Linked DNA regions of Homo sapiens. The protein of the gene in region 1 interacts with the protein of each later gene in a biochemical or structural test. Each region holds a gene or a part of one and is shown on either strand. Other genes may lie near its edges. The genes, in order: SYNJ2 and SYNJ2BP.

Evidence for each region.
Region 2: the proteins of SYNJ2 (region 1) and SYNJ2BP form a complex in vitro, tested with the Homo sapiens proteins (one study listed by BioGRID).

Annotation. Positions count from the first base shown.
Region 1 is NC_000006.12:158,087,616-158,104,120, forward strand, and holds the end of SYNJ2 (synaptojanin-2), read left to right. Parts: intron 1-1,044; coding exon 1,045-1,157; intron 1,158-2,223; coding exon 2,224-2,332; intron 2,333-5,310; coding exon 5,311-5,489; intron 5,490-6,272; coding exon of another isoform or gene 6,273-6,395; exon of another isoform or gene 6,396-6,422; intron 6,423-8,002; coding exon 8,003-8,749; 3' UTR 8,750-11,561; downstream 11,562-16,505. UniProt on the Homo sapiens protein: Inositol 5-phosphatase which may be involved in distinct membrane trafficking and signal transduction pathways. May mediate the inhibitory effect of Rac1 on endocytosis.
Region 2 is NC_000014.9:70,359,989-70,375,585, reverse strand, and holds the end of SYNJ2BP (synaptojanin-2-binding protein), read left to right. Parts: intron 1-2,454; coding exon 2,455-2,595; 3' UTR 2,596-9,087; downstream 9,088-15,597. Other genes in the region: SYNJ2BP-COX16 protein, read left to right, coding at 2,455-2,553. UniProt on the Homo sapiens protein: Regulates endocytosis of activin type 2 receptor kinases through the Ral/RALBP1-dependent pathway and may be involved in suppression of activin-induced signal transduction.

The DNA.
Region 1 (16,505 bases):
CAGACTTAGATCTTCCTAAGCCATTACTTCAGAATTGGGCTCATTGTGGCTGACGTCACGGTAGTAACCAATGGCAAGCCACAAGCCCAGATATAAAAATAACCCAAAAATAAAATGCATAAGTCATGTATTATTGTGGAAATTTTAGAGATAACTACAAAGAAGAACAAAATTTTAAAATTCACTTGATGACCTACGGGTCGTAGTTGTTGAAAAAAGTCTTCTTTTTCCAGTTTCATGTATCTGCAGCAACATACTTCTTTTTTTTTTTTTTTTTTTTTAACAAAATTAATACCCATTTTCTCTGGTCGGTTGTCTTTTATTTAATGGGTTATATTTTCTGTGTCATTGAATGTTCTAAAACATGATTTGTTAATGGCTGCAAGTATATTTTAACAGTTTATTCCCCTGCTTTGGAATTTTTTTTTTTTTTTTTTTTTTTTTTTTTTTTTTTTTTTTTTTTGAGATGGGCTCATTCTGTCCCCCGGGCTGGAGTGCAGTGGTGCGATCTCACAGCTCACTGAAGCCTTGACCTCCCCGGCTCAAGCAATCCTCCTACCTCAGCCTGCCAAGTAGCTAGGACTGCAGGCGCATACCATCAGGCTTGGCTATTTTTATTCATTTATTTATTTATTTTGTAGAGACAGTTTCACCATGTTGCCCAGGCTGGGGTTTTTGAAATATTTTTTCCCCACAAAATATTTTAAAAATCTGGTCCTAGCAATAGTATTTGGAACCATTTCAAAATCAATTGGTTTTTATATCAGATCTGAATCCCCCAAGATGTTAAAGTTTGCATTCTAGTAATGCTTCTCCAGATCATCTACATCAATAGGCACACACTGGTAGAATCAAGTGAGAAACTCCATAGAGAGTCAAGGAAGGCCTGGCTCTGTGGGTGCCCTAAGTGCCGAGTGAGTATTCGGACCTCACCGTGTCTGTGGTCTGCTGGGACATCCGCCTCGTCTAGTCGGGCTCCTGGCAGCTGGCTGGGAAGTTGTGCCTTCACTGAGATTGAGACTCTGCCCTCGTTGGTTTTTACAGCCGGTTTAATGGTGAAAAAGTCGGCTTCAGATGCGTCCATCTCCTCCGGCACCCATGGACAGTATTCAATTTTGCAGACGGCAAGACTTCTACCAGGAGCACCTCAGCAACCTGTGAGTTCTTCTGCATACATTTCAATCCCAAGGGTTTTGCCCCCGGGATAGTGTGGGATCTCTCTTCTCAGTGAATATATAGATTTATGTGTCTTTAACCCTCTACCTGCTCACCATCTCATCTCCAAACCCCATAACCCTTCCTCGCAGGTTCTCCATAGGGCTTTTAAATGGTTGTATGGAGTGTTCTAGAAAAAATCACTTTTGATGAAAAATCCCAAATATCCCTGGTTTCCATACTCATCCATTTCTCTCTCTTCCCATTCTTGCCTCTGACCTTGGTGTATGGGCAGAGCATTGCTTGGTAGAAGGGAAAATGGGAGAAATTCAGGTCGTTATCCTGGGAAAATGATGATCATTCTGGAGTGAAGTTGGTTGAGAGAAGAGGCTAAAAAGAGATGTAAATAATGAAGTTGGGGAACACACTAGGAAGACTAACAGCCATAGAGGATTGTGGAGGTGCCTGGTTCCAGAGGGTACCATGAGCTGCTGGGGAAGAGAGCAGGTGAAGGCAGGGAAGTAGAGGGGAGAGAGGGGAAGCTGGGTGCTAGGGGGAAACTGCTATGACCGGGATGCCTCTGGGGTGCTGGGCCTGGTTAAGTGCTTGTGCGGCCCCAGCAGGTGGAGGGGTGACTGGAGGCCAGTGTTTTACAGTAGTGAAAATAGGTCATAAAGGCAACCCACATGCTGGATGAAGAAGTAGAAAAAGCACTTTTAAGGAAGGTATTTTAACAACTCAGTGGGACCATGGAAAGAGTGGCCTCTTATTTTGCTTTCTGGCTTTCACCTGGTTATTGAAAAAAAGATAGAAGATGGTCTGTCCATATGCAAAAATCTGTAATCACCCGGCTTTGAAGACCAGGGTCATCAGGTCTAAGTAGTATGGCACTCTTGGAAAGAGAGTGCTCCAGGAAAGAGAGGATTGCAGGGTGTGGTGGAGGCTGGAGTTTGTATGGTCAGCATCGTCTGGTGGAGCCCTGCACAGACCCACGGGTAGCAGATACGTCCCACGAGGCTGTCCTCCTGCCTCTGCTGATACTCTGCTCTTCCTCATTCTGTCCTCAAGCCCAAGGCTCGGACTGGAATAAGTAAACCTTATAATGTCAAGCAGATCAAAACCACCAATGCCCAGGAGGCAGAAGCAGCAATCCGGTGTCTCCTGGAAGCCAGAGGAGGTAGGTGCTTTCCTGGGGGCAGGGGAAAAACCAATTCTCCTTTTCTTTTTATCTCCCTGCTAAAAGTGGTCTAGAAACGAAAATAACTCTTTTTATTCTTCTGGAGGCAATATTAAATGAAAACATCCTTTAGCAACATTTTATATAAATCTATACTAAGATTGATTGTCCATTTAAAATTGTATTTTCAAAATTCTGTGTGTATATAAAAATCATCCCAGGGCTATTAAGCGGCGTCTAAAGGAGAGACCGAAAAAAACCAAAATGAGTTTTTAAAAAAGGTGAATGCTGCCGGCATGAAGTCATTCTGCCAGCTTTATAAAACAGAGACAGTTATAGTGTTTGTCCTAATTTCAGGCACAAAATCTACCTTTTAAATCACTGGCAAGTGGAAATAAAGTTTTTAGTGTCAGGCAGGGACCTCTTTCCCACCACATTATTTTTTGTTGCTGTTACTTAAACCATGTTAGTTACCTTGGGCTCTCCCCCACTTCATTCATAATCACTGGTAATTTACACTTTTAGTTTTGGCCTTGGCTTTGTTCCAGAATCTCCTAGAGAGGAGAGTGTGCCCTTTTCTTCGTTTTTTTTTTTGTTTTTTTTTTTTTTTTTTTTGAGACTGAGTTTCACTCTGTCAGCTGGACTGGAGTGCAGTGGCTCAATCCCAGGTCACTGCAACCTCCGCCTCCCAGGTTCGAGCAAATATCCTGCCTCAGCCACCTGAGTAGCTGGGACTACAGGCGCGCAGCCCCATGATGAGCCAATTTTTGTATTTTCAGTAGAAATGTGATTTCACCTTGTTGGCCAGGCTGGTCTTGAACTCCCAACCTCAGGTGATTCATCCACCTTGGCCTCCTAAAGTGCTGGGATTACAGGTGTGAGCCACCACACCTGGCCGAGTGTGCCCTTTAAAAAGGTGTAAGCAATCACCATTGCTTAATTTGCTTTTAGTCAGCATGTTTAACTTCTTTGGAATTCTCAAATAATATTTAAGGGGGCATGAGTTAAAAGGTCGAGAACTACTGTTGTAGAATGATACTGCTACAAATGCTTTCTTTTTTTTTATTTTAGAAAAATAACTAAAACTAGGCCGGGCGCGGTGGCTCACGCCTGTAATCCCAGCACTTTGGGAGGCCGAGGCGGGTGGATCACGAGGACAGGAAATCGAGACCATCCTGGCTAACACGGTGAAACCCCGTCTCTACTAAAAATTCAAAAAATTAGCCGGGCGTGATGGTGGGTGACTGTAGTCCCAGCTACTCAGGAGGCTGAGGCAGGAGAATGGCTGAGCCCGGGAGGTGGAGCTCGCAGTGAGCCAAGATTGCACCACTGCACTCCAGCCTGGGTGACAGAGCAAGACTCCGTCTCAAAAAAAGAAAAAAGAAAGAAAGAAAAATAACTAAAACTATGGATATAACAACCCAAGTGTCCATCAGCTGATAAATGGATAAACAAAATGTGGTCCATCAATACAATGGAATATTGTTCAGCCATTAAAAAAAAAAAGAATGGGGCTGGGTGCTGGGTGCAGTGGCTCACGCCTGTAATCCCAGCGCTTTGGGAGGCCGAGGCAGGCGGATCACGAGGTTAGGAGATCGAGACCATCCTGGCTAACACAGTGAAACTCCATCTCTACTAAAAATACAAAAAAATTAGCCGGGCGTGGTGGCACGTGCCTGTTAGTCCCAGTTACTCGGGAGGCTGAGGCAGAAGAATCATTTGAACTGGGGAGGCAGAGGTTGCAGTGAGCCAAGATAACGCCACTGCACTCCAGCCTGGGTGACAGAGCTAGACTCTGTCTCATAAAAAAAAAAAAAAAAAAGAATGAAGTGCTGATACATACTACTTCATGGGTGGACCTTGAAGACATTATACTATGTGAAAGAAAGAAAAAAAGGCCACATAGTGTACCATCCCCTTTTTATGAAATGGCCACAGCAGGCAAATTCATGGGGTCAGAAAGTTCTTCTTGCTTTCCAGGGACTGGAAGGAGGCCTGGGTGGGGAGTGGCTGCTGTGGGGCTTCTTTTTTGTGTGATGAAAATGTTCTGGAGTTAGATCGTATGATGGTTGCACAACTTTGTGGATACACTAAAAACCAATGAATGGTACACTTAGAAAGGGTGAATTTCACGGTATGTGAATTATGTCACAATAAAGCTGTTAAAAAAAAAAAAACTCTAGAGATGTAGATGTTAGTAGAGGTGTGAAATCTACCTACAGTCCCGGCTTAACACTTTCTTGGTCATGGCCCCATTGAGATTTTGATGTCTTTGGATCATCTACCCTGAGAAATGTAAGTACACATGAGACTTTGCATATGATCTCAGGGTCTCACTGGTCCCCATCCAAACTATCCACAGACCCCAGATCACCACCCCTGCTAGGAAGGTGAGCATGAAAACCTGGGACTGCTGGGTGCGGTGGCTCACGCCTGTAATCCCAGCACTTTGAGAGGCTGGGGTGGGAGGACTGCTTGAATCCAGGAGTTCGAGACAAGTCTGGGCAACACAATGAGACCCTCTCTCTACAAAAATTTTAAAATTAGCTGGGCGTGGTGGTTCACACCAGTAGTCCCAGCTACTTGGGAGGCTGAGGTAAGAAGACTGCATGAGCCCAGGAGTTCCAGCAACATAGTGAGACCTCATCTCTACTAAAAATTTTAAAAATTGGCTGGGCGTGGCAGTGCTCACCCGTAATCCCAGCTACTCAGGAGGCTGAAATGGGAGAATTGCTCGAGCCTGGGAGGTTGAGACTGCAGTGAGCCGTGATCATGCCGCTGCACTCCGGCCTGGGTGGCAGAGCGAGAGCCCATCTTAAAAAAGAAAAAAGAAAAAAAGCTGGGACTGAATCTAGCTGATTACTCCTGAAATACACTGAATTAGTAAATGACACTTAGGATGTAGACTGTCTAAGGACGAAATCATGCAGTGAATTGCCTTGTCCTTTACACTTCAGCCATGTGGTTTTATGTTTCAGGTGCCTCCGAAGAAGCCCTAAGTGCCGTGGCCCCAAGGGACCTTGAAGCATCCTCTGAACCAGAGCCCACACCGGGGGCAGCCAAACCAGAGACCCCACAGGCGCCCCCACTCCTTCCCCGTCGGCCCCCACCCAGAGTTCCTGCCATCAAGAAGCCAACCTTGAGAAGGACAGGAAAGGTAAAAGCCTGGTAACATAAAACCTCTTACTCCTAAGTTGCTCACATGTCTCGATAGATAAGAATTGTGGCCTGTAATCCCAGCACATTGGGAAGCCGAGGCAAGCGGATTACGAGGTCAGGAGTTCAAGACCAGCCTGACCAACATGGTGTGAAACCCCGTCTCTACTAAAAATAGAAAAATTAGCCGGGCGTGGTGGCGCACGCCTGTAATCCCAGCTACTCAGGAGGCTGAGGCAGGAGAATCACTTGAACCCAGGAGGCAGAGGTTGCAGTGAGCCGAAATCGTGCCACTGCATTCCAGCCTGAGCAGCAGAGTGAGACTCCACCTCAAAAAAAAAAAAAACAAAAAAAAAAAAACAGATTTGCGTCTCACAGATAAAAATCTAGTTCCCTATGGACATCCTCACGTTCATGAGTCCCAGACACAGGTGTGTCTTTGGGGAAAGTTTTGACAACTGCTTCTTCCCTCATATCCTACTGTGTCTTGGCTCTGGCTGAGAAGAACGAGGAGTCCACTGTCTGGCACATTGTCAGTGTGACAAGAACAGCTTGGAGGTATTATGCTTCCTAAGTGTTTTGAGTCCCCAAAGGGAACCATAGTGGGATGCTTTTCCCCACATGTTCTGGTACCGCCCATTTGCGTGTGGTCTGTGTTGTGTGCACATGGTTTCAAGGCATTAGGAAAACAGTAACCGATTCCCAGATTCGCCATGTTCACATGCTCTCGTGCGGCCTCAGCCTACGAGAGGTTCCACAGCTTTTCTTGCCACTTTTCTTGCAGATTGTTTTTTGCTCTCGCTCTCAAGCTTCTCAGCCTTGCTTACTGCTTCAAAGACATGAGTTTGTAAGGACAGTAGCAGCCCAAAGACTGGCATCTGTAGACACATCTGGATCTTCCGTTTGATCTCAGTGTTCTAGTAACGGACCCTCGGTAATCCCTTCCTGGTCATCACAGCACGATGCTGCTTCCCCCCTAGAGAGTGTGAGGGGGGCTTCGGCTTCACTCTTGACAGCGCTTGCTTTGTATTTCCTGGGTTGCTCTTCTGTCCCACATTGGCTCATTGCCATCTGTCCCTTGTCCATGCTTCCTTACAAAGTGGACCTTTTTCCTCCGCCTCTTCCCTGTTCAGATGCTCCTCGACTTAAAATGGGGTTACATCCCAATAAACCCATCGTAAGTTGAAAAATAGCGTGTCAAAACTGCATCTCATACACCTAACCTAGCAAACGTCATGGTCTCGCTGACCTTGAACACACTCAGAACACATACATTAGCCTACGGCTGGGCAAAAAAAAAAAAAAAAAAAAAAAACACCCATCCAACACAGCCTATTTTATAATAATAAAAATAAAAGATCAAACTTCAAAATTCAAAGTATGCTTTCTACGGAACATTAGCGCTTGTGCACTAGGGTGAAGTGGAAAATCCTCAGTGGAACCATTGTAAGTCGGGGACCACCTGCTTTGTCTTTTCTTGTAAAAGCCAGGAGCAGAAATAGATTCATTTTCCCAACCTGCTGCACAGGAGTTAAAGTTAAAAGGCTGTTGGAAAAGAGACTTTCTTTTTTCTTAGTTTGTTTTCTAAAGAACCAAAGAAACACTGAAACGCCAATGTTTAACTAGTCTACTGATCACCTTTTCTGAACAAAAGCTTCATTTTGCCTGTGCAGTTGTTTTCTTTGTGATAGATTTGAACCAGAACCAAGGCAGTGTCAAGGTTTCCATTCTTTACCAATATTTAAGTATAAAAGATTCAAGGAGCTGGGCGCGGTGGCTCACGCGTGTAATCCCAGCACTTTGGGAGGCTGAGGCGGGTGGATCACCTGAGGTCAGGAGTTCAAGACCAGCCTGACCAACATGGTGAAACCCCGTCTCTACTACAAAATACAAAAATTAGCCAGGCATGGTGGCAGGCGCCTGCAATCCCAGCTACTCGGGAGGCTGAAGCAGGAGAATCGCTTGAACCTGGGAGGCGGAGGTTACAGTGAGCTGAGATTGCGCCATTGCACTCCAGCCTGGGGGACAGGGCGAGACTCCTTCTCAAAAAAAAAAAAAAAATTCAAGGAGAAAGTATATCCATTAGTCCTTCAGTTAGCTTATGTTGTAACACAAGTTACTTCACCCTAGCATGATACAGACCATGAATCAGCCCAGGTTGCAACTTCAAAGAGTGTTTTCAGAGAGGTTTGCTTTCAATAAAGGAAGAGCATCACCCCATTTCCTAAAGGACAAAGAAAAGTTTGTCTGATTATTTACTGTGGCCCTGGTTTTAAATTTTCCACTCGTTTTCATTGGACCTGCTGGTGTGACCTGATAAATGTGTGTTTCTCCTGTGCTTTTTCTTTTTCTTACCTGGTCACATTTCTGGCACCCCACACATTCTCAAATCTCGAATTTGCTAGAATGTCAGCTTGGTCTCATCTCTGTTCTCTGCTGGCCACTCTGTTCTCTGATCCTCAGCTGCCTAGTTATTGGCTTCTTATTTACACTCTTTGTCCCACCTTTTCTCAGCCCCTGTCACCGGAAGAACAGTTTGAGCAACAGACTGTCCATTTTACAATCGGGCCCCCGGAGACAAGCGTTGAGGCCCCTCCTGTCGTGACAGCCCCTCGAGTCCCTCCTGTTCCCAAACCAAGAACATTTCAGCCTGGGAAAGCTGCAGAGAGGCCAAGCCACAGGAAGCCAGCATCAGACGAAGCCCCTCCTGGGGCAGGAGCCTCTGTGCCACCACCTCTGGAGGCGCCGCCTCTTGTGCCCAAGGTACCCCCGAGGAGGAAGAAGTCAGCCCCCGCAGCCTTCCACCTGCAGGTCCTGCAGAGCAACAGCCAGCTTCTCCAGGGCCTCACTTACAATAGCAGTGACAGCCCCTCTGGGCACCCACCTGCCGCGGGCACCGTCTTCCCACAAGGGGACTTTCTCAGCACTTCATCTGCTACAAGCCCCGACAGCGATGGCACCAAAGCGATGAAGCCAGAGGCAGCCCCACTTCTTGGTGATTATCAGGACCCCTTCTGGAACCTTCTTCACCACCCTAAACTGTTGAATAACACTTGGCTTTCTAAGAGCTCAGACCCTTTGGACTCAGGAACCAGGAGCCCCAAAAGAGATCCCATAGACCCAGTGTCAGCTGGCGCTTCAGCTGCCAAGGCAGAGCTGCCACCAGATCATGAACACAAAACCTTAGGTCACTGGGTGACAATCAGTGACCAAGAAAAGAGGACAGCACTGCAGGTGTTTGACCCACTGGCAAAAACATGACTGAGCAGCTTTGAAGGCTGCAGTCCTATAGAATGCATACCTTCCTCCCTCTAGACATCCCTCCACCAGAAGAGACATCTATTTAAAGGCACACTGGCCAAAACGTTTGTGCATCTGTCACTCTCGTGTAGTTTACAAAAATCGTGTCTCTTATTCAGTAAGATGGTTACTCAGCCACCAAAATATATTTCACTCAAGGCTTGTACATCTGAAGTTTGCTCTTCAAGGAATGGGAACCTTCCTGTTAAATTCGGTGTATGGATTTTAAGAAAGGAATCTAGCCAATGAGGTCCAAGAAGTTCTCACCCATTGAATTTTTAAATGGCTGTTCAGTTCATGTTGTACGTGATGGAGATTTGTCTTTTGTTTTATTTGCATTTTACAGATTTGGTATAACATTTTGGGGAGCCACCTGAAGGTTGATGTATAAAGTAAGGATTAGAGAAAGAGGTCGTTGTGACCATTAGTAGCTGTCCTGGCCCACTTAAACAAGGTTACAAAAAATCAGAGTCGGAAGCAGCCAAATAGGTCAACCTAATGACTAGACTGTACATTCCCATGAGCCTTCATGTTTAAGTGTGTACATGTGCGTTAACCTTGATGATGCGTGAATCCCGAGGGAGCCGGTGGCATACACCGTTAGCTTAACCTTAGCTTAAACTAGCTGAAGGCTCCTGTGCCATGTCTTAGACATTGCATGCCCTATCAATTACTATAATCCTGAGCCATGGTGTGCTACTGAAACCAATTTTTATCCACCATCTAGTCCTTATTAAATGAAACCTCACGGATCCTTTGTTCCGCTTATATTCCATGCATACCACATAAAAGCACACAGTGCGAAAACTCTTGCTGATACGCGATATTGATTCTCATTGTTAGAATATGGAGAGTGTTTCAGCCTCGTCTGTCCGGCTGGAGCTTCGGGATGGAAAGTGCTATGTGTCCCTGCATATAAGAATCACCAGGCCAGTGTTTCTGGGTTTGCTTGTCTATATGTTTGTCTATATTTTTTGCCTATACATTTTTCCCACGTTTCCAACAGCACTTCTCACCTATTCAATAACTGAAAAAGACATTACCATAGTGCTTTACATTTTTAAAGTAATGTTACAAGGTCTGGAATCCATTTGGAGCAGATACCGTGTTTTCGCTATTTAATAAGAAGTTCAGTAGTGAAATCTTACTGTACCGCCTGTTGTATCTGGGAGCCTCGTACAGAGGCTCGCACAGCAGTGATCAAGTGTCATCCCTTACGTGACTGGGGGATGTCTGTCCTAAAAGCTGACTGCTAGGATAGTAAGGATCATCTTGCCTGGGCTATGCCACTGTCTTGTTACCAATTAGACATCTGGAATTTCATAATTAGTTTTCATTGTCACTGTCAAGATATATTGCAGATTACTTAAATATGGCCATCAAAACAAAAGTTACAACACGTATCTCTTTTCATCTGAAAACTAATACCTGGAAAAGGATAAAAAAAAAAAGGAATCCGTGACCCACAGAGCTAGACAGATAAGATGCATAGTTGACCAGTCATAAAAGGCGGTGTTTAGGTGATCAGGATGCCGTTGGTGGCATTTACGTGCTTTATATGATTTTTACCTCTGTAACAAACACAAGAAATAAACAGAATGGTCCTTAACAGAGTTTGGGGGAGAGAGCAAGATGGGTTCCTTGGAGAAGCTGATTTGCCAAGATGCACATCGCTATTAACAGCCAGAGTCATAAATGAAATGAAATTGAAGAATTCATTCAAATGCTCTTTTCCCTATAACCTCTTTTCTCACCAAAAAGGAGATAAATTTGAAAACAGATAAATGTAACAACCAGTCAAAGAAGCAGGGGAAAAGTAAGCTCCTCCAAAGTTGCTTGCAGTGCTGGAAATAGATCTCATTTTTAGGTTTTCTCTTCGTTCCAGATACCAAATAAATGGGACAGAGAATAAAATTTTTGTTAAAATATGTGCTCATCTCCTAAGTAGCTCTTCAGAGTCTGACCGTAAGTAAAAACACACAGAATTGTGTTGACTGGGGGAGGTGAATCACAAAAAAGTTACGAGGAGTTTAAGAGTTAAATATTATTTGATCGTGGCTGTCAAATTTAGTGAACAACATAGATTGGATTTGGAGTTGGTAGTAGGTATGGTTCTCATACCAGAATTCTCTTAAAAAAAAAAAAAAGGACAATTGGAATTGCCTTATTTATTTTTAAAATCAATGCTTACTAGTTGGTAGGATTCCCAGGTCAGCAGCAGGGTTGATTAAATAATCTTGACAATGAGCAGCTGCCATCTTGGGGGATTTCATTCTGTGGTTTTTTAAATGTTTCGTCTTTGATGCTACCATCCAGGGCTTCTTATTGTGACCTTGTAGCCTATTTTGTTCCTGCTGTTCTCTAACATGGTGCAGTTCACGCAGACTGGTTTAGGTACTTCACAACTCACCATTGTCTCTCTGACCCCAAGCCTAGTCCCTTTTACATCACCATCTTCTCAGACTTCTTGCCTATTCTTAAAATATGTTTTGGTTAATGATTGAATTAGGACATCAGCTTAAGCAATTCCTGTAACGGTTTAACGTTGTTGAAGTTCAAGGCACATAATAAAATTCTCCCTGATGTGTGTGTAAGTATAAACAAAGTAATGTATCAAAGCGTTCACTTTATAATGAAGTCATTTCATTGGGAAGGAAAGCTGCAAAGATTATTGGGGGACTAGTGATTAATAAAATCCTGTAATATTTTTGAAGTGAAAATTTGTACTGAAATTGTACATGATACCTATTAAATGTTTTTGTCTTTTTTTAAATTGGGTTTATTTCTTTTCAGATATGAAGAGAACCTTAGAATATCTTTGGCTACCTTCTGTTCTGGATCAAATGTAATTACTGGTTATTTAGTAATTCCTCTTGAGTTTCGGGTTTTGGTTTTTTGTTTTTTTTGTTTTTGTTTTTGTTTTTTTTGGAGACAGTCTCACTCTGTCGCCCAGGGTGGAGTGCAGTGGTGCGATCTTGCTCACTGCAACCTGCAGTGAGCAACCCGGGTTCAAGCAATTCTCCTGCCTCAGTCTCCTGAATAGCTGGGCTTACAGGCATGTCCCACCATGCCTGGCTAATTTTTTTGTATTTTTAGTAGAGACGGGGTTTCACCATATTGGCCAAGCTGGTCTCAAACTCCTGACCTTGTGATCCGCCTGCCTAGGCCTCTCAAAGTGCTGAGATTACAGGTGTGAGCCACTGCGCCCAACCGGTTCGTTTTTTTAACTATTAAATTAAGTTCAAAAACCAGAAAAGTAATCATCTGGTTAAGAATTTATGACTTGAATGCTGCTAGCAGGGAATACTGCCATAACATATAATAACTTTATGCTACTTAGAGATGCTAGAATTCATTTTCTGTACGATTTTATAGCAAACTTATAAAAACTGAACTGCTAGCTTGAGTCCATTACAGCATAGAAGCAGGAGACGGAAGTAAACACTTCAAGTTCTGTCTAGGTTTGCTCTAAGCTAATTAATACAATATAGATCATAAATGTTCTCTGATGATTTTCAGGAATAAGAATAAATCTCTAATAAATATGGCTAGTCCTTCCTGACCAGTAAGGAGGCATATTGAATTTACTAAATCTGACAGCCGGTTGCAGAAACTTCCTTTTCAAGGGACTGGGGGAGATAGGTTTAAAACGCACTCTCATCCAAGGCAAATTGTTTGCATTTATCTCAATGAGGTAATAAGAGTACAAATGAGGCCAGGCACGGTGGCTCACGCCTGTAATCTCAACATTTTGGGAGGCCAAGGCGGGTGGATCACCTGAGGCCGGGTGTTTGAGACCAGCCTGGCCAACATGGTGAAACCCTGTCTCTACTAAAAATATGAAAATTAGCTGGGAGAGGTGGCACACACCTGTAATCCTCAGGAGGCTGAGGCAGGAGAATCCCTTTAAGCCCAGGAGGCAGAGGTTGCAGCGAGCCGAGATTGCACCACTGCACTCCAGCCAGAGTGTGACTCTGTCTCAAATAAATAAATAAATGAGTATAAATGAGAGAGTAATTGTGAACAGACAGGGAAGATTTGGGAGAAGAGTATTAAGAATTTTGGGCCAGGCACGGTGGCTCATGCCTGTAATCCCAGCACTTTGGGAGGCCGAGGCAGGCGGATCACGAGGTCAGGAGATCGAGACCATCCTAGCTAACACGGTGAAACCCCGTCTCTACTAAAAATACAAAAAATTAGCCGGGCATGGTGGTGGGCGCCTGTAGTCCCAGCTACTCGGGAGGCTGAGGCAGGAGAATGGCGTGAACCCAGGAGGCGGAGCTTGCAGTGAGCTGAGATCGCGCGACTGCACTCCATCCTGGGCGACAGAGTGAGACTCCGTCTCAAAAAGGAATTTTGAACTATTTTTTTAATTAATTATATTTTCAGAGCTGTTTTATGTTCACGGCAAAATTGCCCAAAAAGTAGAGTTTCCATATCCTCCCTACCCCAACACGTGCACAGCCTCCTCCACTATTGACTTCCCCCCACCAGACTGGTACATTTGTTTCAATCAATTGACTACATTGGTACATCATCCTCCCAAGTCCATAGTTTAGGGTTCACTTTTGGTGTTGCACATTCTATGGGCTTGGACAAGTGTATAATGACATGGATCCACCATTGCATTATCATGCAGAGGAGTTTACCGTAAAAATCCTCTGGGCCCCACCTATTCATCCCTCCTTCCTCTCAATCCCTGGCAACCACTTACCTTTTACTGTCTCCATGGTTTTTCCCTTTCCTGAATGTCATAGAGTTGGAATCACACAGTATGTAGTCTTTTCATGAGTGGATAGCTCTTTTTTTTCAGTGCTGAATATAATCCATTGTCTGGACGTACCAGTTTATCCATTCTCCTACTGAAAGACACCTTAGTTGCCTTCAAGTTTTGGCAATTATGAATAAAGCTGCTATCAACATCTGTGTGCATGTTTTTGTGTGGACATAAGTTTTCAATTCATTTGGGTAAATAGGAAGGAGTGTAATTGCTGGATCATATGGTAAGAGTATGTCTGTAAGAAACTGCCAAACTGTCTTCCAAAGTGGCAGTACCATTTTGCATTCCCCCCAGCAGTGAATGAGAGTTCCTGTTGCTCCACATCCTCACCAGCATCCGGTGCTGACAGCATTTTGGGATTTTGGCCATTCTAACAGGTATGTTGTGATGTCTTAATTTGCAATTTCCTAATGACATGATATTGAACATCTCGTATGTTTGCCATCTGTGTGTCTTCTTTGGTGAGGTATCTGTTCATATATTTGGCCCAGTTTTTAAATGGATAAAGTTCATTTTCTTACTGTTGAGTTTTAAGCGTTCTTCATACATTTTGGATAACAGTCCTTTATCAGATACATCTTTTGTAAGTATTTTCTCTGAGTCTGTGGCTTGTCTTTTGATTCTCTTGACATTGTCTTTTTGCAGAGCAGAAAGAGGATTAAGAATTTGAAAAGTAACAGAGTCGATTAATAGAAAGGATGTTAGTCAATGGTAAAGATAATTTCAGAGGACCTATAGTTTAGGATTTTATTCTGTGTATAACAGAAGAAGTTGTTTGTAGAAATATCTGAATAAATCTGTGTGGTAGAATGGTTAAGGTTATAGGCTTTGCCTGGGATAATAGCAGCTCTTCAAAGCATCTGGAATATAGTTTAGAAATGGTATGAAGTGGACCCAACAGCTTCTTCCTGAGGGACGCCTATACAATGACCATTTGTTAAGTAATAAACCATTGCTCTTGCTTCCCGAATTAGGTTTCTCAAGGGGTTATTCAATTTTATTGACATTTTCAAAGAACACCTTTGGGATTTATATATCCTTTCTATTGTTTTCTTTTCTTTTTAGAGACAGGATCTCACTCTGTCACCCAGGCTGGAGTGCAGTGGCATGATCATAGCTCACTGTAGCCTTGACCTCCTGGGCTCAAGCAATACTCCCACCTCAGGTCCCAAGTAGCTGAAACTATAGGGGCTTGCCACCATGCCTGGCTAGTTTTTTGTATTTTTTGTAGAGACAGGGTTTCACCATGTTGCCCAGGCTGGTCTCGAACTCCTGGCCTCGAGCAATCCTCCCCCCTTGGCCTCCCAAAGTGCTGGGACTACAGTGCAGTGGTTCAGACCTGTAATCTTAGTACTTTGGGAGGCCGAGGCAGGCAGATCACTTGAGGTCAGGAGTTCAAGATCAGCCTGGCCAAATATGGGAAAAACCATTCTCTACTACAAATACAAAAATTAGCCAGGCATGGTGGTGCATGCCTGTAATCCCAGCTACTTGGGAGGCTGAGGTACAAGAATCGCTTGAACCCAGGAGGTGGAGGCTGCAGTGAGCCAAGATTGTGCCACTGCACTCCATCCTGGGTGACAGAGTGAGACTGTCTAAAAATATATTTTTTCTTTGTATTTTTAAACATCTTTCATTAATTTTTAACTTTAACTTGGATCTGTTTTGTACTTTTACTTTTGTTCTTTTCCTAATCTTAATAGTAGAACTGGGTTTTCATTTTTGGTCTTTCATAGTTAATAATAAAGATATTTAATTAAAGTTATACATTTTCCCTTGATTTTAGCTTTAACTGCACCCTATACATTTTGGAATGAAATTTCCTCCTTGTCATTAATTGCTAGATTGTAATTTGTCGTTGCGTTCTCTTTGATCCATTGGTTATTTAGGAGACTGTATAATTTCCAAATAGTTAAGGGTTTTTTGTTTTTATTTTTGATTTTGGGTTTTTTGTTTTTTTTTTTTTTGGCATTTTAAATTACTTAGCCCTAATTTTATTGGCCTGTGACCTGAGACTATGACCTAGAAAACCATCTACTTTTAAAAATGTGTTAACGTTCGATGTGGCCATGTGGAGGATTGATTTGCAAAGTGGTTTCATCAATATAATTTTTTTTTTTTAGTCATAGGGTACAAAATTGTGTGTGTGTGTGTGAGAGAGAGAGAGAGAGAAATTGATTTGCTGTCAATTACACTCTACCTGCTGGAACAGGTCTTTGTGCAAGGCAGATCTGTGGGGGATGGTGAAGGCTCTAGTTCTAGTTCCAAAGTGATGCCTTCGCCTTGCTCCTACCAAGATTCCTTAGATCTTGCTGAATAAATGTTTCACGATTTGTTGTCAGCCTTTTGGTCAATCTCTAGAGACATTGAATGATGGCTTTTGCTAATTTTGACCAGTTTAATAGATGTCTTTCTGTGGGAGAGGTTTCCCTGAGCAGCTCATACAGCTGTTCCAGAATGTAGACCTTCTGGGCTCTCCGTGTTCTGTAGCATTGGCCTGCTTGTCTATCCGTGTGCCAATACAACGTTGCCTTATTTCATTTAACTTTGTTATCTGATAAGCACTCTCACCATATTCTTTTTCTTTAAGAGTATCTTGGCTATTTTTGAGTCTTTGTATTTTTAGATCAATTTTAAAATCAATTGAAGTTTCATTTTTTAAAAACCTGTTGCAATTTTTGGGATTGCATGGAATAGAATAGACAGCTTTACGGTATTGAGTCTTCAGTCCAAGAACCCATCACATCTCTTCATTTAAGGTTTTCCTTGATGTTTCTTAGTTTTTAACTTGTAAAAAGTTTCAGACATACATTAAATCAGAGGGAATAGCCTGGACCCTCGCATATCTGTCACCTGGGATTTAACAGTAATAACCCTTTGCTATATTTGCTTTATATATTTTTCCTTTGCTGAAATATTTCAAAGCAATTCTGCTAT
Region 2 (15,597 bases), on another chromosome or scaffold:
TTTGTTTTACCCTCACTCCCCTGAAGAGTTTCTCAGGCAAAGGGAGGGGTCCATTGGTACTTCTGCTTATCATTGAAGGACATTCAGGCCAGGCACGGTGGCTCACACCTGTAATCCCAACACTTTGGGAGGCCAAGGTGGGCGGATCACTTCAGGCCAGGAGTTCGAGACCAGCCTGGCCAACATAGCAAAACCTCATCTCTACTAAAAATACAAAAAATTCAGGCACGGTGGTGCACACCTGTAGTCTCAGCTACTTGGGATGCTAAGGTGGGAGGATTGCTTGAGCCCAGGAGGTAGAGGTTGCAGTGAGCCAAGATCATACCACTATACTCCAGCCTGGGCAAGAGAGTGAGACCCTGTCTCAAAAAAAAAAAAAAGAAAAAAAGAGAAAAAAAAGAGAAATTCACAACAGTATGGCTTATAACCAAGGTCCTTGCTTCAAGATAATATGCCTTAAAGATAAAGCTTGACAACCAAATTAAAACAGATGATTAAAGAAAAGCCAGGTGTGGTGACTCACATCTGTACTCTTAGCACTTTGGGAGGCCAAGGTGGTATGATTGCTTGAGCCCGGGAGTTCAAGACCAGCCTGGGCAACATAGAGAGACCTCATCTCTTAAAAAAATAATAATAAAAATAAATAAAAAATTTTAAGAGTGACATGGACCAATGGAAAATAAATAAATTAATTAATTAAAAAGATGGTAAAAAAACGTAGCCAATTTTACTTTTTGGTAGGGAAGGAACCATATGTCTACCGCTGAAAACTTATTTATAAAACCATTGGATAAAACACTACAAAGATGGTGGGTTTTCTGGTACCCACTATATGCTTTTCCCTGTCACTGCCATGAACCCTTCATTTATCAACTTGGTGACCCTCTTAACCAAATCTTTAGTGTTCATAGGAGAACTCCAGGAAAAAGGAAATGGAATTCAGAATTCAGTCAAGGCAGCACCTATCCCTGCATCTGTTTCTTATTTCCAAGTGTTTTATAATTTGGATGATGATGTAAAGGGAAGCCTGGGTAGATATAATTCCTCCTATAGCATTGAGAATTTCTGAGCATATTCACAAAACAGGTTCCATGTGCCTTTAAATTAAATCAATTTGCTACTTCTTAAATAGGTGCACTCTTCCTCACTCAGTGGCTAAGGATTTAGAAGCTTAAGAACATTTAGAGGAGTTCCTAAAAAAGTAGAGAAGGCAGAACGTGAAAGATACCTGAGAAAACAACCAGTTGCAAGCAGAATCTGGGTGTAATGGATTAGAAAACAGGTTAATAAGAGATAATATTGGTCATCAGTTGCTTCTGCCTTGGCTCTTCTCTTTCTAAAGCATGGGAGCATTTGTGCAGTAGATAAAAACAAGTAAATATAGGGACACACTTCAATATGATTACAATTCTTTTGGAAGGTATGTGAGAAGTTATTTCCAGTGTTCACTTTTAAGGAAACATCCATAAATAATTCCTAATAAAAAAGACCCTTATGTTCAGGCAATTGGCCTAGCCCTAAAAACCATGCCTTCTTATTGAGCATGTCCTTTCAGGACAGCTCATCAGCAAATGAATGAAAAACATAGAGGTGGAATAGAGGGTATAATGGTATTTCATGCAGTCTTGCCTTTCAGATTGAAGTGTCAGTTTTATGAGTTGTAATGAGGCAGTTTAACTGAAATACGATGATGCCATAATTATTGCAAGTTAGCCACTAAAAGTTGATATTAAGAAGAGCTACCCTGAAAACCATCACTAAAATGAAGACCATCCAGCCTCAAAAGGAAACACTTAGCCAATAGAAAATTATAAGCACTAGGATATAATTTCTTTTTGCTTTTTTACATCTGTTCCATATAGATTCACCTTCATCTCTCTCTAGTATTAGAAATGAGCAGATGAAGGGCAAAACCCCATCTTTGGAGGGAGTTGGGTGCCTTCTGGGATCTGGAAAGCATTTTTCAAGTAATGGCATTGGACGTATGTTGGTATTGCACCTATGTTGACATTGCCCACATCTGCTCTTACTACATTTTGATGACTGATTATCTAAGTAAACATTTCCAGAAAGATCCCCCTTCTTCCTCACCAAGTAATATCCAAGTTCCCTATAAGATCATAGGTTTTATCTCATGTCTTCATTTTCCTGATACGATACACAAATAGCAAGGTAGAGGCAGTACAGAAACAGAAATTACCTGACTTGCCCTCACGGGTCCCTTTAGGTCAGCAAGGTTAAATGCCTCCCCATTAGACCTATTTTCTTTCCAAAGATCCTGTGACACTGATGCATCAGCTCAGGACAAAGAGAGGACTCCTTCTGCTAGGTATTGCTGGGGGTTACAGTTTTGGGTGGTCTAGAGTCTACAAACCCAGGTGATGTATCAACCTGGGCGTTTCAGTTGCAAACACACATTAGTCACTAGAGTTAACATTTTTCTTTCCCTTCCAGTTACAGGTGCAGAATGGACCTATAGGACATCGAGGTGAAGGGGACCCAAGTGGTATTCCCATATTTATGGTGCTGGTGCCAGTGTTTGCCCTCACCATGGTAGCAGCCTGGGCTTTCATGAGATACCGGCAACAACTTTGAAAAACTTGCTCTCTTTCAATACTCCCAATGAAGATACATTTCACTCACCCTCCACCCCTGCTATTCTGCCATGTCTTTCCCTCTCTCTGCATAGCCAGATTTGAAGTGACTGATACCCACCCCAAACCTTGCTGTTCACAGTCTCCAATTCTTCATATTCTAATGGGAAAGTAAAGGTATTGTTTGAAGGAAAACTGAAGAAAAGACTTGGCTTAGAACAAATGAGGAGTTATATATTTTACTAGGACTTTTGATAGAAATTCAGCTACAACCCAAAGAGAGAAAGATTGAGTCTTCCTGTCACCATAGGCAATACCTTTTTTCTTAGCTGGCATGCCATAAAGGCCAGCTATGTGATATTAGAGGAAGAAAGGATTTTTCTTTTTAATGATCTTCCTTGGGAAATTATTGTGGCCTTTATTTAATTTCTAACTACGTACCTGGGTGCCTATATCGACAAAGAGTGAGAAGAGCATTTTTACTTTTTTAAAAAAGCAAATACATATATACACATACGTATGCAAATATTATAGTATAATAGTGATCCCTATGGAGAATTAAAGGTGAGAAAGCTACTTTGTGGTGTCTAGGTTTCTGATAAAAGGGATGATCTTAACTGAAGAATTTAAAGAGATACTTAAACAGAGCAAATGTAGTAGGAACAAGGGAGTGAGCCTTATAAGAGGACGTTCAGTCTCATTTATTAAAATAATAACTGAGACTGGGAGAGGTGGCTCATGCCTGTAAATCCCAGCACTTTGGTAGCCTGAAGTGGGAGATTGCTTGAGTCCAGGAGACCAGCCTGGGCAACATAGCAAAACCTCATCTCTATTTAAAAAAAAAATAGAAAAAAATGTAATAACTGAAGCAACTAATTAAAAATCTTAGAAGAACAATATTTATTCTTATAACAGCCAACTATGGTGAGTTATTATAAGGTAAATTGCCATAATCCAGCGCTGCTCACATCTAAAAAACTTTGAGGTGTAAAGGTAAATCGTACCAATCTCTGGGCTGCCCTAGTGACTTTTTTGATACCTCAGAGTCCTATTGAAGAACCAGGTGGAATGATTGTGGTAAGGGCTATAGTGCTGGAGCCAAACACCCCAGCAAGAAAACTCTAAAAGGACAAAAGATAAGGTAGTGCCTCCAAGGTGGCACCTGAACCCTCTCAGGCTACTTTTTGGTTTCTACTAACAAACCTGAGGGAAGGAACTGCCTCCCTGGCAGGATGGGCATCAAATCAACTCTGGCTTCAGATTTAGTTAAAATGAGGCCGGGTGCAGCGGCTCACACCTGTCATCTCAGCACTTTGGGAGGCCGAGGCAGGCAGATCACAAGGTCAGGAGTTCAAGACCAGCCTGGCCAACATGGTGAAACCCCATGTCTACTGAAAATACAAAAATTACCTGGACATGGTGGCGCGTTCCTGTAATTCCAGCTACTCAGGAGGCTGAGGCAGGAGAACTGTTTGAACCAGGACCTGGGAGACGGAGGTTGCAGTGAGCCAAGATCACGCCACTGCACTCCAGCCTGGGCTACAGAGCAAGACTCCATCTCAAAAAAAGAAAGGCATGGATTGCTAGTATTTTTGAAAGGCTTTATACACTACATACGGCTTTTAATAAACCTTTTTGCAGCAAGAGGGAGGAAAAGAGTTTTGTTTGCTTTAGGAGGTAGGGAAATGTGGTAGGTGTTTCATGCGGCCTAGGAGGAGGATATGAATGAATGGATACTATGGAATGCCAGTGATCTCGATAAGGTGGGAACCATCCTGTTCATGTTCTTTTAAGGCTGGTTTTAAGCACTATGGGTAGCTGAATTTTCTGGCTTTAAGAAAATCATTTCCATTAGCCAAATATATTGGCCATACTATAGGCCTTTTATAATTTTGTTAGCAAGATTATCAGGACTCAGGCAATCAACTGTATTTCATTTCTAGCTTGGACAGTCTGGTAATTAAATGTTGATTGGACATCAGCTTTGTCAAGACACTTTTACAAAGAAGTACAGTGCATATCCTCCATCCCATAGGGCTTTTGGGTTCCAACTGCGAAGACAACACTCTTATTGGCCACATAGGTAGGACAGTGTAAGTAGGGGTCATGTTTATATTACAGACAGCAAAAGAGAAAAGTTACTGAGAACTGGGGCGTTTGAGAAAGTTACGTGGAGGAAAGGGACAAGTTGAAGACCCTTAAGGGCCTCACAGCCTAGTTAAGAGAATTCATAAACAGGTGAGAAGTTAAAAGTATATCAGCAGGCTAAGTATTGAAAACAATATTAAAGGGGTACCATGCAAAACACGATGCAGCAACAAAGAAGATATGCAGGTAATCATCACATTTTCTTTTAGAAATTCAGGGAAAAAAAGATGTCACATAATGGCATCAGGCTCAATTGGAAAGGGAAGGCTTTTGAAAATAAGAGGTCCGGTAAGACCTTGCCTCTGGGTCACTACTGGTATAGGGAGAAACTTGCTTTAAACAGTCCTGACATAAAGTGCCTTTTGACATCAACTATTCAATACCTTTGAGACTCACTTAGACAACTGGACTCATTGTAGGTTCCACAGAAAAACACGGACAACATTCTAGTTGTCACTCCAACCAGCCACACTAGGAGGGCACAGCCTCTGGTACCCTTTCTGTTCCTGAAGGCATGTACAGCGGCTTCTACAGCAAGCTTGCTTACCTCCCAGGATTCACCTCATGGTTTGGACACTGATTCCTGAGAGAGCCTTGAGACACACAAAGTGAAAAAAATGTCAAGCAGGAATGAAAGCTCTAGTTTTTTGCTTGTTGGTATATGTAAATTTGTTTAAAAAGTATCCATTCTGTCGTTGGTAGAAGTTTTGCTTTGGTTGATAATAGAGATTCTGATGTACTCTTATAACTTAGGTTTTCTCAGAAATTAAGTAGCATTGAAGATCAATGTAATACAGTTTTAAGCAGGTACACTAATTATATTATTGATTCTATAGAAAACTAAAATTATAGATGAGGTATCAGGATCCATTATAGGTTGTAAAAAAATTCATGTTCTTCATAGATTGAGTCTAATATTTCTTCTATAGATTGCATCTAATGTTCCTACTACCTAAATTATTACGTTCAAAGTTTTGAAAATTGAACGAAGGTATTTTTAAGTACTTAAAACATTTCTCTATCATTCTGTATTACATGTATAATTATAAGATATTGTTTGCTTCAACTAGCTGTACTTTGTTTTCCTGTGAAGTTTCAACTTATGTGTTATCGATTTAACTTAATTGTTCCATCTAGCCATGTATAATGGAAAAAGGAAGTTAATATTTGTTATTGTGTTCTATGCCAGGGACTGTACCAAACTCTGATTGGTACATTATTTCATGTCTCATAACTCTGGGATCTAAGTATTGTCACAAAGAGACTAAAAATGAGAGAAAAAATTACTTGACTAGGATTATGTAGGTGGTAATAATAGAATCAGGATTTAAACTCAGGACTTCAGATGCCAGCATCAATGATATTCTCTCACTGGAAGTGGTTCTCAAAGCAAGGTCCTGACAAAAGCATCAGCGTTACTGGGGAACTTGTTAGAAAAGCAAGTTCATAGGCTGGGCATGGTGGCTCATGCCTGTAATCCCAGCACTCTAGGAGGCCTAGGCAGGTGGGTCACTTGAGCTCAGGAGTTTTGAGACCAGCCTGCACAATGTGGTGAAACCCTGTCTTTACTAAAAGTCAAACAAATTAGTGGTGCATTCCTGTAGGCCCAGCTACACGGGAGGATTGCTTGAGCCCAGGAGACTGAGGTGCAGTGAGCCGTGATTGCTCCACTTCATTCTAGCCTGAGCAACGGAGTGAGACCTTGTCTCAAAAACAAAAAAACAAACAAACAAAAAACAAAAAGCAAGTTCCCAGAAGAGAAAAAAGAAGTTCCAGACCTAGTGAATCAAAAACTCTGAGCGTGGCATCTCACAATCTGTGTTTTTGTAATCCTTCCAGGTGACTGATTCATGCTAAAGTTTGAGACTCATTGCTCTATGCCAGTCATCATTCCCTTTGCTCAGGTTAGAATCATCTGGAGAGCTTATAAACGTCCCCATGCCCAGGCTGCACACAGATCAATTAAAAGGAACCTCTGAGGGTGGGACTCAAGCAGCAGTAAAATAAAGTTCATTGAGTGATTCTGGTGTGCAGCCGCAGTTGAAAATGTTATATAGCATTTAAACAAGACACTATTTAATTAAACACTATTTAAATTATTAAATTACATACATTGCTTCAGGCAAAACAACAACAACAACAACAACAACAAAAACTTGGGCCTTTAGAGCCCAGCTTCCTGAGCTTCTGCACGAAGTAAGTGGAACATTCATTTCTTCCTGATTTGCTAAGGATTGATCAACCTCCAGCAAAATGTATGATTAGTGAGTGTTTCAGTTGGTGCATCAATTAAATGAGAACCAATCATAGAACATTGAAGCTAAAAAGGACCAGAGAGCTTCTAGGATGAATCTGTCTTAGAGATGAGAAAAATAAAGGCTCAGAGAGGGAAGCTAACTTAACTCTGATCAGACTTAGTTTGTTGCAGAAGTGACCTTTCTGTCTCATATTTATGTCTTGAATATATTCACTACATGAATACACAGACTACCCATTTTATCTTAGTCTACTTCTTTCTTCTCTCTTTGGGCCTGAATAAAGACCAGAACTGATAGACAGCTAAAGGATATTGCAAGCATCATTATTGGAATTGGGAGATTCCACAGAACAATCTGAGAATGATCTCATATCAAATCCAATCAGATGAGTTATTCTGAGACTAATTCCAATAGTTCTAGAGACTTTTTTTTTTATGGTGGACATTGTTTTTATTGTGTAAATAAGCAATTTTTAAAGTATATTTAAAGAAATGAAACATAAGGAAGTGTATAGGCTGTCAGGTATGTGGGGAAGTGAAGTTCATGTAGTTTTCATGTGGAGCCCATACAGATTTTATTATAGTCAATTTTAGTGAAATTTATCGTTGGTCAGATGAAGGTTTTTTTCCTTCATTCAGCAAATAACTAATGACTGCCTACTATGTGCTAGGTGCCGAAGATAGAGAGATAAATAACACTTAGTCACTCTAAGCTGAAATTGCTCAGCATATGAAAGTGGAGGAATATTTGTAGGTGATTTTGATGTTAAAGTATTTTTTTAACATCACCTGGTAGTAGAAGATTGAGTTATGAAGCTGTCTACCTCTCACCTGTAATAGTTTTAGAGTTGGTTGCTATTTTGGTGTAAGTCTTTTTTGCTGTTCCTCTTTTAACTGCAAATCTTTTTGAGACCAGCACTCACATCCAAAAGGGCAATTGTGATAAAAAAGAAGACAGTATTTTAAGGATTCTGATCAGAACCAGATTCTTTTCTTTTCTTTTTTTTTTTTTTTTTTTTTTTTTTGAGACGGAGTCTTGCTCTGTCGCCTAGGCTGGAGTGCAGTGGCACGATCTCAGCTCACTGCAATCTCTGCCGCCCGGGTTCAAGCGATTCTCCTGCCTCAGCCTCCCCAGTAGTTGGGATTACAGGTGTGTGCCACAACGCCTGGCTAATTTTTGTATTTTTAGTAGACACGGGGTTTCAGCATCTTGGCCAGGCTGGTCTTGAATTCCTGACCTCGTGATCCACCCATCTCGGCCTCCCAAAGTGCAGAACCAGATTCTTAACTGCCACAGACTCTTGTATTATGTAATTTATATACAGAACACAAAGCACTTGATTTGCTTAACTGATGTACTTGATGATACTATAAAACCTATATTATGAGAAAGCATTGCTCCTTCAAAGGAATCAAGTGATAGCAAACACTCGGTCCTGTTTCCAGGTTTTCCTCACTGTTCATTTTGCCTTTGTTCTTGCAGGGGGAGAATGAAAGGGGCGAGAGCTAAAGTGTGTTGTCAATGCAAGTCAATCCTTAACCAACAATAATTTACAAAAGAACTTTATATTTGCTGTAATCATTAAATTTAGTTACTAATCCCAGGAAAAGGGTTAGTCCTTCCTCCTAGTTTGTAGATTTGCAAATGGAGATGAATAATTGAATCCTATTTTAATCTTTTATCTGCAGTAATCTGGGCTTCTTATTACCGGATATATTTGCATTTTACCTCCAGGCCATGTTAGTTCTTAGAAGATTATTTTCCTCATGAACCCTGTTTTGTTTTGCTTCCTTTCTGCTTCAATTCTAATGTCACATTGCATACCTGGATGTAAACAGCAGTCAGTTTCTCAGATCAAATAGAGCCCTGTAGCAACTTGGAAGACACAGAAGACACACGGACATAAAACTGTATTTATTATCCAGGGAATGTCACTACGGATTAATTATGTTAATGAGGCCATCAAAATCTATGGTAATCTTTCAGGCTTTGTTGTTTGATACCAGATACAGCAAATGAGATAATAATGTGTCTAATTGTGCCTAGCCAGTATTGGTATTTAATAAAACTTTGTCATTGAATCTTTACAATCTTTTTTCACCTTATTTTGAAGACCGTTGATTAAATATCTCATTTTTTTTTCTTCCAGATGAGGGTTTTTTCCTTCATTCAGCAAATATCTGATAAGTGCTTACTATGTACTAGATATTCTTAGGGTAACACCTCTGACAGAATTGTGGAAAGAGGAAGAAATCTAAATGATCAGTTTGAGGCTTTGACATAGGAGATAAGGAACAGGACATTGATATCCTGTTAACAATTATGGAGCTCTTATCAATATTCCAGCTTTTGTTCTAAGGCCTTTGCATGTATAATATTTATTTAAGCCTCAAAACAACTCTTAAGATAACTGCTGTTGTTATCTTCATTTTATAGATAAAAGGCATAGAGAGGTTAAGTAACTTGCCCAAGTTATACAGCTACTAAGTGCCAAAGCTGTGATTTAAACCCAGGCAATCTGGCTTCAAAACCTGCATTCATAACTATAACACCTTACTGTCTCTACTTCCCATGGTACCAGGCACTGCATTAGGCTGCCCTTTTGTATAACTTAATGCCAAATTCTCATATCTGTGCAAGGCAGTGTCAATATTCCATTTTTATAGGGGAGGTAACTTGATGCTTAAAGAAGTTAATAACTTGCTCAAGATACATAACTAGTCAGTTCCAGACCTGGGAATTTACTTCAAGCCAATGAGTCCACTGCCCTTCCACTATTCTAGAAAATTAAGGTTTACTATACTCAATTTGATTCAACCATGCTATCATATCCTTCCATTATGGATAACAGGAAATTGACTGCACTAGGTTAAATGTTCTATAATAGCAGTAGCAGTATCATTGTGTATTTATTCGCAATGTTTGCAAGCAGTTGCCAACATTTACCATCTTACTTGTATCCCCTTCATCCCCCAAAGCCTTATAAGATACATAGAAGGCAGAAGTGGGTTTGTGCCACAGCATGAAAAAGGACTTGTCAGAACTGAATATTGTTGACCTTTATTCTAAGTTAGTTTGCATACAGCTGACTTTGATATGAAGAGAAAAGGCAGTTTACATTGGTCATCATTGCTCCGTCACCCATGTTAAGCAGTTCAGGCCTGAAATCAAATTGGTAGTCTACAGTATGTATAGAATGGCCATGTTCTTTCTTGATAGGCAAAGGTGTGTCAGTTACCAATTATGTAACAAACCACTGCAAAACTTAAGTGGCTTAAAGCATATTAATAATTTTTTAAAAGATTCTGTCAATTGACTATTTGTTCTGCTGATATCACCTGGGATGGTTTTACTAATCAATTCTTGTATTTTTGCTTGTTTCCTATTTTTTTAGTTTAGCTTTTATTTTGGTTAATTCCCTCGTTATGCTTTCCTTTGTTTGTGTTTTTGGTTTTGGGCTTTTTTTTGTTGTACTTTTCCTTTTCATAAGTTGGATATTTGTTTTCAGTTATGTGCAATCATAGGACTTCATATGAAGTTTTTTTCCTTTTTATTAACTGCCATGTAACATAAGTTCTATTTTGATATCCTCCTCAGTTTGGGGGTTATTCAAAATGTTGTTTGATTTGGAAGTGATTATTTTAGGAAATAGATTCATTTTTGAGGCATCAAGTTCCAATTCTATTGGATGTGCATTGTGTTTTGTTTTATAGGAAACTTTGTGTGTACAATGGTATTTGACTAATCTTTTTTTTTTTTAAAACCAGTGGTAGACAATAGATGTTATTCAAGCATTTAAAACAACACAAAACACACATACAGACAGGACATTTTTTAATGGTTTCCTTTCCAGGAAGTTTATCTTGAGATAAAAGTGCACTTCACTTGCTCTCAATTCAAACATTTGTCTTCATATTTCTAAATATAAGTGTTTCTGTAAAGTTTTTTTTAACATAAAGTTCAATAGATAAAATCCTGTTTCACCACTGACTTATATTACAAAAGCACCCATCCACCTACCCAAAAAGGAAACCCTAGTTAATTAACAATATTTATACAGAAAGCTTTCAGATAGGGCTTAACCCTGTGACAACCAGCAGGCTAGAGTTCCTGCTTTGCTCTACCTGATGAAATTTGTAATCCAAGTAATAGTGTACTTTAGGACATTGCCGTTGTCTTTGAATTCCTTTCGGTTTCTTTTGTCTGTCTGTATAGAAGAGACCTCTAGCACTTTTGTATGGAATAGTTACCTTTGATTCTCTCCAAAGTGTTACAAAGCAGATTTTTGTTTGGTTTGAGAATTACTGGCCGGGCATGGTGGCTCATGCCTGAAATCCCAGCACTTTGGGAGGCCAAGGTGGGAGGACTGCTTGCGCCCAGGAATTTGAGACCAGCCTGGGCAACATAGTGAGACCTCGTCTCTACAAAAAATGAAAAAAAAAAAACAAAAAACGCCAGGTGTGCTGACATGGACCTGTTGTCCCAGCTACTCGGGAGGCTGAGGTGGGAGGATCACTTGAGCCTGGGAAGTTGAGGCTGCAGTGAGCCATGTATTCTTCATCCTTCACTGTATAGCATGATATGGGAAGATCCTGCCATTTCCTTGTTTTTGTTTGTTGGTTTGTTTTATTTATTATTATTATTTTTTTAAGATAGGGTCTTGCTCTGATGCTCAGGCTGGTCTCAAACTCCTGGGTTCAAGTGATCCTCCCGCCTTGGCCTCTCAAAGTTCTGGGATTACAGATGTGAGCTACCACTCCTGGCTGCTCCTGTCATTTCATTTGTTTTTCCAGAAAATTATGCATTGTGGTTTTGTACTATGAAGGAAGTCATGGAAAACAGAAATGTATTAGGCATGGTCCTGTTTACCCCATATCTTATACTCCATAAAAAGTAATAAGGCAAATACAGCAATAATTCTAAACTTGGAATGTTCATGATCACTATCATAAGAGAAAGTGCATTAAAGAAGAAACAGTTGATTTTCTGGCTGAACAATATCAAGGACAATTTTAACTGGTTTCAAGTTGGACTGAACTAGACCAACTCTTAGCTACTCTAGTTCTAGCCATAGAAATTAGATTGAATGGAGAAAAGGATTAAAATAAACCTTGGTGGCATGTTGACCTTGAGGTGTTAGAAAATCGTTCAGGCTCCTGGAAGTGTACCAGAAGTCTTCCATGCTGTGATAAAATTTGAAGCCAATGTGAAAGTGGAGTTTACCTAGGGAAAGAGGATGGAGCAGTGGTTGTCAGAGTGTGGTCCTCAGACCAGCAGCATCACCCAGAAGCTTGTTAGAAGGGCAGATTTTCAGGCCCCATCCCTGATCTACTAAATCTGAAACTCTGGTGATGGGGCCCAGCAGTCTGTTTTAATGCTCTCCCAGGGATTCTGGTGCACACTAAAGTTTGAGAGTAACTGAGACAGAGGGAAAAAATGGGACTAAGGACTCCAGTTTAAGGTTTGTAAGTCTGAAGACAACAAAAAGAAGTCTCACCATTGGAGAGGAGCCATGGCAGTGAAACTTCCATAAAAGCCACAGGAGGAGAGAATTTCAAGGAGATAGTCAGTATTGTCCAATTCTACAGGAAATTTAGTTCTGTTTGGGATATTTGTACCCCTTCCAAAGTGAGACCTTGTGTTTGCCTCTTAACTTTTCTGAGCCTTAGTCTGTTAACCTATAAGATGAGTCTGGCATCATGTTCTGCCCCTATCATAAGGTTTTTGAGTGAATCAAATTAGATGGTAAGCCAAGCATGGTAGCACACACCTGTAGTCCCAGCTACTTAGGAGGCCAAGGCAGGAGGATTGTTTGAGCCCAGGAGTTCAAGACCAGCCTGAACAATATAGCAGAACCTGTCTCAAAAAAAAAAAACAATTAGTAGATTCAATGGCATTATCAAAGTAAACAAAGATTCATGAAGTAACTAATCTTTCGATTACCATAGCCATGAATTCTGGCCATAATTCTGCTCTGTTGCCCAGGCTGGAGTGCAGTGGCACCATCTCGGCTCATTGCAGCCTCCACCTCCCGAGTTCAAGTGATTCTCCTGCCTCAGCCTCCCGAGTAGCTGGGATTACAGTCATGCGCCTTCATGCCCGGCTAATTTTTGTAGTTTTAGTAGAGACAGGGTTTCACCATGTTGGCCAGGCTGGTCTCAAACTCCTGACCTCAGGTGATCTGCCCGCCTCGGCCTCCCAAAGTGCTGGGATTACAGGTATGAGCCACTGTGGCTGGCCAGTTCTGGCCATAATTCTAAAACCTAACTTCAGGACTAAAGCTCTCAAGAAGACTGGTGTTTTTGTTTTTGTTTTATAACAACGCTCCCATGTACTTGCATGAGTTAAATGCTGGTAGAGCAGATACTAGAGGATAATATAACCTGCCTGGATATCAAGTACATACCAGTCCTCAGGGACTGGCATAGATGGTGGAGATGCCCCATTTCCTGAATATACATTTTTTGTAACTTCTTACAGTTAAGATAGCTGAGTCAGCATTTTAACTGTTTATTAACAATGGAAACACATGGAATTTGAGTCATATTTCTGGGAAGGCAACAGATTCCATACTGGTAAGAAATTTTGTGTTCCCTTTTTGTGAGAATCGTAAACTGATGACAAATATCACTCATTCCGATTTAACAGATGGAAAAACTGAAGTATACAGTAGTGATGCTTAAGAAGGGCGCTATGCATAGCTGGTAAAATTTACCACCTATGTAGTATGATTTGATAGGTGCTTACATTCCTCAGTGTCACAGATTTTGTCCCCTGACAATCTGCCGGCATACCTGTAATTCCTACTGTTCACAGTTACTCCTTCAGGGCCATTTCAAGGTTCTCAATAAATGCTTATTTGAGTGATTGAACAAACAAGATACTAAAGACATAGAGTGCCTTAAATTGGATAGATGCCTTATCTGAAAAGTGTAAGATTATCGACTCTAGCATTATTTTGAATATATGTATACGATTTAACCCATTATTAGCTACTACTTAGGTGCCGGGTTTTGATGGAGTAGTATCCAGTAGGCTGATGTTTTATGTAGTGAAGATGTAGGAAAACGCTAGAGTTTTAGAGCAGCGCCTTTGGCTTCTAGGATCTTAGGGAAAGTAGGAGATGTGATACGCTTAACTAACCTGGATGCCACGTGAGATTTATTTATTTATTTTTGAAACAGGGTCTAGCTGTGTCACCCAGGCTGCAGTGCAGTGGCATGATCACGGCTCACTGTAGCCTGGACCTCCTGGGCTCAAGTGATCTTCCCACCTCAGCTTCCCAAGTAGCTGAGACCCCACCATGCCTGGCTAATTTATTATTATTATTATTATTTGTAAAGATGGGGTCTTGCTTTGTTGCTCAGGCTGGTCTCGAACTCCTGGGCTCAAATGATCCTCCTGCCTCAGCCTCCCAAACTGCAGGTATTACAGGCATGAGCCACCATGCCTGGTCTGCATGAATTTTGAAATATCAAAAGGAAGTAAATAAGATGGGAGAGATGCACCGTTCCTGGGTTTCTGGAGGTATTGAAATACAGGTTGATGTGTAGAGTGGTGGAGCAAACTCCTATTCCATCTCCTTGCTTCAAAAACCCATTTAACATATTTTCCTTGGATAGAGAATGTGTCAAATATTAAACTGTTAAGAACAGATACTACACTTGATCTTAGCCAAAAGGATAAGTTTCACTGGAGTAGCCTGCAGTAGATCTGGAGCTTCTCTTCTGGAGACCACTTAAGAGGCTACTTTAATAGGTGAAAAGATGATAAGGAATTAAAAAAAGGAACATTTCAGTGGTAACAGAGAGGCAGGGACAGATGGAAATATTTCAGGAATAGCATGGAAGATAATATTCCGCATCACCTGCACTCTGATTCACTCTGGTAAATGGGACACGTGGGGGATCGGCTTCCTAAGCTATCCCAGTACTTCACACATGTTTGTTTCTGTGCCCATGAAATCGCCAGTGTCTTTAAGGTAAGGATCATATATTTTTATCTGTGTTCCTAGAACCCTTTCAAAGACACGCTGAAAGGTGGCCTGTATGGTTGCTGAATCATTGGTAAATAGACATTCATAAATGACTAAAGATTACAGGTTATCTCACAGTAAAATCATTAGCATTAAAAGTTCAGTAATGACTGATGAGACACTACACTGATTACATTTCAACCTAATCTTTCAAAAGCGATTTATTTTTAAAAGTCTCCATTAAACTGGCAAATTCCTCATCCCACAAATAGCCATAAAGACTGGAGTACCAGCTTCAAAATACTTTTTTTTCTTTTTTCTTTTTGAGACGAAGTCTCGCTCTTGTTCCCCAGGCTGGAGTGCGATGGCGCGATCTCTGCTCATTGCAACCTCCGCCTCCCGGGTTCAAGCGATTCTCCTGCCTCGGCCCCCCAGTAGCTGGGATTACAGGCGCCTGCCACCACGCCCGGCTAATTTTTGTATTTTTTTTTTTTAATAGAGACGGGGTTTTACCATGTTGACCAGGCTGATCTAGAACTCCTGACCTCAGGTGATCTACCGGCCTCGGCCTCCCAAAGTGCTGGGATTACAGGCCACCCACCCAGGCCACCGCGCCCGGCCT